2 separate regions of the Homo sapiens genome follow, and region 2 is reported to be linked to region 1. The links are microRNA targets in miRTarBase. Many come from high-throughput screens and were not tested one by one. Region 1 holds a microRNA gene; the other region holds the end of a gene's coding sequence.

Region 1 (3,264 bases):
TGCTTCTACCTTGGTCTCCGTTTATTTGCCCTCAAACCCACAGTTTGTCTCCCCATAGCAGCCAGATCACACACACTACAACTTCCCAATTGAAGATGCTTTAATGGCTCCCAAAGTCCTTTCTAGAGCCTCTGATGGCAGGGGCTCTGGGAAAGCCCCCAGCCCAGTCCCCTCCCTTGCCCAGATAAACCATGGCCAAAAATGTCCAACAGTGGGCACAGCTTCTAAATGTTCTCCTTTAAGGAGAGGCCTCTGGTGGGCCTACCAAACCTAACTTACAGGGACACCCAGGAGCTAGGCCTGGGCCTTTGCCATTTCCGTTTTTTTTTTTTTTTTTTTTTTTTTTTTTTTGAGGCAGGGTCTTGCTCTGTTATCCAGGCTGGAGTGCAGTCGTACAATCATAGCTCACTGCAGCCTTGAACCCCTGGGCTCAAGCGATCCTCCTACCTCAGCCTCCTATGTAGGACTACAGACCCACGCTATCAGCCCCAACTAACTTTTTAATTTTTTTGTAGAGTTGGGGTCTTGCTATTGTATTGCCCAGGCTGGTCTCAAACTCCTGGCCTTAAGCAAGCTTCCTGCCTCAGCCTCCCAAAGTGCTGGGATTACAGGTGTGAACTACTGCACCCAACCCTTTGTCATCTATCTTTTCTTCACTTGGAGAAAAGTGAGAAAATTAAGACTTAGTGACTATGACAGTTAAGCAACTATCACAACCACCAAGGTCAGGGTCAAGTTCTCTCACCACCCCAGCCCCTGACCCCCAGGACTCAGAGACTTACCTGATTCCACGTAGCAAAGTTGACTTTGTCGGCTGCATTAAAAGCCATGATGTTATATTTTTTGGTTGTATTCCTGGAGTGGATGAGAAGAGGTAGTGTCAATCCAATACAGCAATTCAATCATTAATTTAATCAGTCAATGCTATTGAACCATTAATTCAATCAACCACCCAACTGGATCGTTAATTCAATCAAATCATTACTTTAATTCAATCACTCAATTCAATTGAACCATTAATTCAATTCAATCATTCCATTCAATTGAATCATTAATTCAATTCAATTCACTCAACAAACCCACCCAGCTTCATTCAGCCTGTTTTGCCTGGCAACACTGGATACGGAAGACTCCAAGGATTCCCAGTCTGCCAGAGAAGCTAGACCCATCCTCTCCTGACCCCAGGCAGAAGAAGAGCAGATGGAGGGACGAAGATTTGGGGGAACCCAAGATGTGGAGATTATTGTGAACTCAGCCTTGGGGAGGAGGGAGGACAGGCAGGGAGTATTTCCTGGAGGAGGAAGATACTGGAGTTGAGTTTTGCAGAATCATCAAGAATTCACCCAGCAGAGTCACAGTTTAGGGGTTGAGGGGAGGCACTCATGGCAGAGGAACAGGATGTACAAAGGCCTGGAAAGGAAAGACAGCCTGACCACTTTGAAACAGGACGAGGAATATGTCCTTACAGCTGGCCTGGGCATCATGGGACCATATACTCCTCGAAGGTTAGGCCAGGGGGCTGGATCACCGTGTATTAATGCACTCATTCATTCATTCGTTCAAAAAAGCAGTGTTGTCCCCAGAGAAGCCTCAGCTTAATCCCAGCCCTGCCCTCCAAGTCTCTCCCGGTCTGGAGGGAGAACCACAGACAGGGCCAGAAATGGCTGGCTAAGAAGATCGTGAAGGTTTTCATTTTTGGGGGGTGGAGAGGAGTGGGAGATGGGGCTGGGGACTTACTTAGGAACTCGAACGACGTATTCAGTGACATTCTGGCTGCTAGGGCCCTGCGGAAAGAGGAAGCGGTGAGTGAGGGGTCGCCGAGGTCGCCGTCGGAACCCCCGAACCCCGCCAAATCCACACTCACTAGGGCCGCCATGGGCAATGGTCAGTGGTTCCGATCTGGTCCGACCCGGGTTCCTTTCGTCTCCTCTGGCGTGCGCGTCCCTCGATCCCGGGGAAGCCGCCGCTCGGTGTCGGGTCTCTGTGCCTGAGCGAGGACCCCAACCCTAGGCGCCTCTGGCGCTGGGAAAAGGTAACCGGAAGAGGCGCTCAAGCTACTCGGTCTACGCTTCTGCGGCCGCCTAACCCGGAAGCGAAACCCTCGAGCAGCCGCGTCGCGATGGCAACCTTCTTAGCGACTGTGGCCACCTCAGTGCGCAGTCACTTATGCTCCTCGGCGGCTATGGTCACCTCAAAAGGTCCACCGCGGTCCCTTTTTAGACTCAGCAAACCTAGGCCGAGTCTGAGATAAACTAACGGGCCTCTGTCGCTGGCGCTCTTGTATATAACGCGGTTAACTTCATCAAATGGGGGACCGCCCTCTCTCGTGACGTCAGCACCCAAGGACCGTGGGGCATCCTGGGTGGGAAGAGGGAGACGAATCCCCCTTGCGGGCTCCCAGGCACTTTGCGCATGCGCCTTGCCGCTCTGGACCTGGGGGGCCCAGAAGGCCGCGTCACCATAGCAACCGAGGCCTACTCGGGTCGGGTCGAACCGCCGCTTGGCTCCCCATGGGTCTGTTTGGGGTTCATTTCCTCCCCCTACCCCGAAGGGGTGGACCCCGTCATTCCCGCAAAATGACCGGGGCGGGGACCCTTGTGACGTTGAGCCGAGCCAGGAGGGGTCAGAGCCTGGGCGGGGTCGGGGCGCGACCACCCCAAGAGCTGCTGGCCGGATGGGTCTTTGCAAGTCCAAGCTGCCCGAGATGGGCAGGGCTCTGAGGCCCCAGGAGAAGGGTAACGTCGCGGGGGCGGCTGGCTGGCTTCCTGGGGGGAAGGGAAGGAAGCTGCCGAGAACAGGAGGGAGATGCAGGATCCCCTACCCCGTTCCAGGCATGCACACATCCCCCGAATCATGGCAGTAACACAACTGCGCATGCTCACGGCGCAACCATTCATTGCTCCACTTCGCAAATACTCCAGCACCTCCTGGGTTCGGGGCCCCGCAAGGTGAATCTGTCAAACCAGCTCCCCACGGAGGATTACAGTGTCCTCTCGAGGGTTACAGTGTCGTGGAAGAGACAGAGTCACAGCATGGGAATCTACAACCCAGGAAGGAGCAGGAGAAGCACAGCGGGGCTCTGAGGGCTCAGAGAAGAGGGGAGGTTTCAGTTGGGCACTGAGGGATGCATAGGAGTTGGCTAAGCAAAGGGAAGGCGGGCAAGACACAAAAGTTGGGCCATGAACTACAGACACCGTCGATGTGTCTGTTTTCATTTATTTCTCATCCACCACTAAATGTCAGGAACCGCCAACCCCTAGGAAT
Region 2 (3,528 bases), not on the chromosome of region 1:
TTTACAGAAAATGCTTTCCCCCCGTTTGGCAAAAAGGTTCATTCTGTGAGCCCACTGAATTCGTATTAATAATAAAGTACATTTCACTATCATATGCTGTTCTCTCATTGGTTCTATCCCATTAACACTTATTCCTGGTTGTAGATTCTGGAGCTTTCTAAAGAGATGGTAAAACCTCTCTCTAAAGAGATGGTAAATGTTTTAATAAAGTTCTCTTTGGGGGAAAAAGAAGCAAAACTTAGTCTCTTTCCTCAAGATGTTTACAAGCTATTAGAGATAACAGATACTTTTAAAAATACATGTTTTTGTTTCTTTTATGGAGTAAATGACAAAACACTGTGGAAACATTATTCTTTCCCGGGGTGTCAGGGAAAGCTTCACAGAAGAAAATAATTCAATCTGGTTTTAAAGGGTGATTGGGAGTTTGACAGGTGGAAGGAGGGGCAGGAGGGCATTCTAGTCAGAAGGAGCAGCGTGTAGAGTGGTGCAGAGGCTTCAGAGACTGATGTATTTGAACACGTATTTGTCTTGTGTGTGGGACATTTAAAGAATTTTGTGTATGTATCTTTTATTTTTTATTGCATACATTTAAGGTATACAGTGTGATGTTTTGATATACATATGCATAGTGAAATGATTACTGTAGTCAGTATATTAACATATTCCTCACTGCACAATTACCTTTTGTTTGTTTGTTTGTTTTTTGAGACAGAGTCTCGCTCTGTAGCCCAGTCTGGAGTGCAGTGGTGCCATCTCGGCGAGCTTGCCCGCTAATTTTTTTTTGTATTTTTAGTAAAGACGGGGTTTCACTGTGGTCTCGATCTCCTGACCTCGTGATCCTCCCGCTTAGGCCTCCCAAAGTGCTGGCATTACAGGCGTAAGCCACCGTGCCTGGCCACAATTACCTTTTTAATTGAGGTAGAATACCTAAAATCTAGTCTCTCAGCAAATTTTCCATATACAATATTAACTATAGTTCTCATGCTGTACATTAGCTCTCTAGACATTCATCCAATAGAACTGCAAGTTTGTACCCTTTGACCTACACCTCCCTGTTTTCTCTTCCTCCCAGCCTGGATAACTACCATTCTACCCTGTTTCTATGTGTAGTTTTTAAGTTCCATATATAAGTGAGATCAAGCAATATTTTTCTTTCAGTATTATTTCTTTCCTTCAATATTGTTATTTTACTTAGCGTAACGTCCTCCAGGTTCACCCATGTTATTGCAAATATAGCAGCATCTCCTTTTGTAAGGCTGAATGATATTCCATTGTACATATATACTGCAAATTATTTATCTGTTCATCTATTGATGGGCACTTATGTTGTTTCTCTGTCTTGGCTATTGTGAATAATGCTGCAGTGAGCATGAGAATGCAGATATCTCTATGAAGTGCTGATTTCATTTCCTTTGGGATACTCAGCAGAGGGATTGCTGGGTCATATGGTAGTTCTGTTTTTAGGGGAACTGCCATACTGTTTTCCATAATGGCTGTACCAACTTACATTCCCACCAAGAGTGTATGAGAGTTCCCTTTGTGTGTGAAAATATTACCATCTCCTCATTTTTAGCAGGCACCTATATATAATGATGACTTCCAAATTGAGCATCTTTCTTACAGATCTCGCTCCTTCATAGGTGGTGTTGTATACTTTACATTGCATCAAATCATGTAGGACATAATGACCAGTTGTCCTGCTGTTACAAAGCTTTAAAATTAATAAAGCTAAGTTTGAGCAGTGGATTCAGAAGTGACAGCCTGCTATATCCATAGTAAAGTTCCAATCAAACCTTTTAAAAAAGTTCATTCACTGATGATCTCTGCCTTATTTACTTATTTGAGTAGAAGTTTTTAAATGGTGCTTTCCTAATTCTGTCGTTCTTTCTGTATTCATTAGCTGTAATTCTTCCAAAAAGAAGAAATTTCCTTTATCTATTAGGGTTATTGATTTTCTCTTTAACAGGAAAGAGGATAAATGTTCATATATTTCCCTTTTGTTGCCAATTTTCAAAATAAGGGTTTACCCAACTCCACTTACGACACATGAGAGATTTTGCTTTTATTCTTGCATGTCTCTTTTTGTATTGCTATGACCTCATGGATTTTATATATTATGTATTTCAATTAACTGCAGTCATTAGTCTTTTTGATGCTAAAACTAATCTATCTATGGCCAATGAAGAGACTCCTTTGGGTTACCTCCTCTGTTCCATGATATGATTCCATTTGTCTTTGATTATTTGCTTTCTGGCATAACAAGATGTCCAGGCTCATGGTATACATATTTTCTGTTCCAGTCCTGGAATCAGCCTTCCCTTCAAGGATGCCTCTTTTCTTTTATTGAGGAAGGGTTCTTAGACATCACAGTTAGGGTGCTCGGAGTGATTATTGCTAATGGGTTATCATTGCTCCTAGGCCTTTTCAATAGACAGAGCTAGGAAATATCTATATTGGAAATAGAAAGCATCATGAATTTGTACAGATATTTTCAAATCAGCTTAATAACATGGCTTTTAAAAAACTTTTTTAATATTTTAAACGAGCATCAGAACCAGGCATGGTATAGTCATTCTTCATGAATGATTCTCTTGGTTTTGCATCCCTTATCAGTTGTCATTGTCCTTACATAGCCTTCCTCCCCAAACAGATTCTTTTAAATTTATTTTCCTTAGTTCCTAAAATGAGTAAAACTTACTTTACAATACATGTGGGATTATGTGCAGAGATTGGTTCCTAGTGATTTTGTATAGTATTTATCCCTTAGCAAATGTAGTTTAAGAACATGTTAATCTGATTTCCAATCACATGATCAGGTGGGTGGATAGTGTCAGTGCCATATGCAATGGTCATGTCCCAGGCATCAATGATGCCCACGTTGAGGTCTTTGAAAATATCCTTCATGATAAGATAGTGAATATAACCATGGAAGTCTCCAAACCTCTCTGTCTCTATGTGCATCTCCCTGATGTTTTCTGTCTTAATAATCACTTTAGTGGCTGGGCTTCTTAGGAACAGTCTTTCAATAGCCTTTTGAACACCGATGGCCCTGCGAATAAAAATGTCAATGGGAAATGGTCTAAAGTGCTGGCCAAAGGTGATGACGATGGCTGTGTTTTTGTCACCTGATAGCCGGTCAATTTCCCGAGGGATATAATCATGATCTATCAGAGAGTAGAGCTGGAAAGTGACGAAGGGATAGCTATGTTTTTTCCATTGAATCTGAGTGTGTCTTTCTGCATCCAGAAGCAAATGTTTCTTAAAGATTCCAGTTTCATGAAGATCAAAAAACTTCAGTGCTGATAAAAAAACAAATAGATGTTTTAAATAGAAGATAATGGTTAATATTCATGAAAAAGAATGTCCTATCATTTAAAATACCCACCCTACCTAGATAATTGCTCACTGGAGCCTTTCTACTCTCTAGGGTACAGTACCCCCAGTTCATACATGTAAAATGTCAATCAAAAATGTAAAGTTTTCACTGGAATTTTAAAAGAAGACCAACATTTCTTATGAAAGAAGGAA

What was found. Region 1 holds the annotated microRNA hsa-miR-6790-3p (CGACCUCGGCGACCCCUCACU, at 1,806-1,826, opposite strand). A microRNA usually pairs through its seed, bases 2 to 8, with sites in the 3' UTR of a target mRNA and lowers its output. Matches are read on the target gene's strand: a 7mer-m8 pairs with bases 2 to 8, a 7mer-A1 pairs with bases 2 to 7 and ends in A, and an 8mer does both.
Region 2: miRTarBase lists NXPE1 as a target of hsa-miR-6790-3p. Seed matches in the 3' UTR shown: 7mer-A1 at 2,094-2,100 and 8mer at 827-834.

What each region holds. Positions count from the first base shown.
Region 1 is chr19:6,391,120-6,394,383 of GRCh38, forward strand. MIR6790 (microRNA 6790) reads right to left here and starts at 1,864; the gene lies at 1,802-1,864. GTF2F1 (general transcription factor IIF subunit 1) reads right to left here and starts at 2,045. Exons shown (of 13, transcript NM_002096.3): 1 at 1,865-2,045; 2 at 1,738-1,784; 3 at 783-855. The coding sequence starts at 1,876. It also overlaps the pseudogene LOC390877.
Region 2 is chr11:114,519,205-114,522,732 of GRCh38, forward strand. NXPE1 (neurexophilin and PC-esterase domain family member 1) reads right to left here. Exons shown (of 9, transcript NM_001395504.1): 9 at 1-3,299. The coding sequence ends at 2,764. It also overlaps a transcript of NXPE2 not described here. Among named protein-coding and RNA genes, the nearest start is that of NXPE1, 39 kb to the right of the region's middle.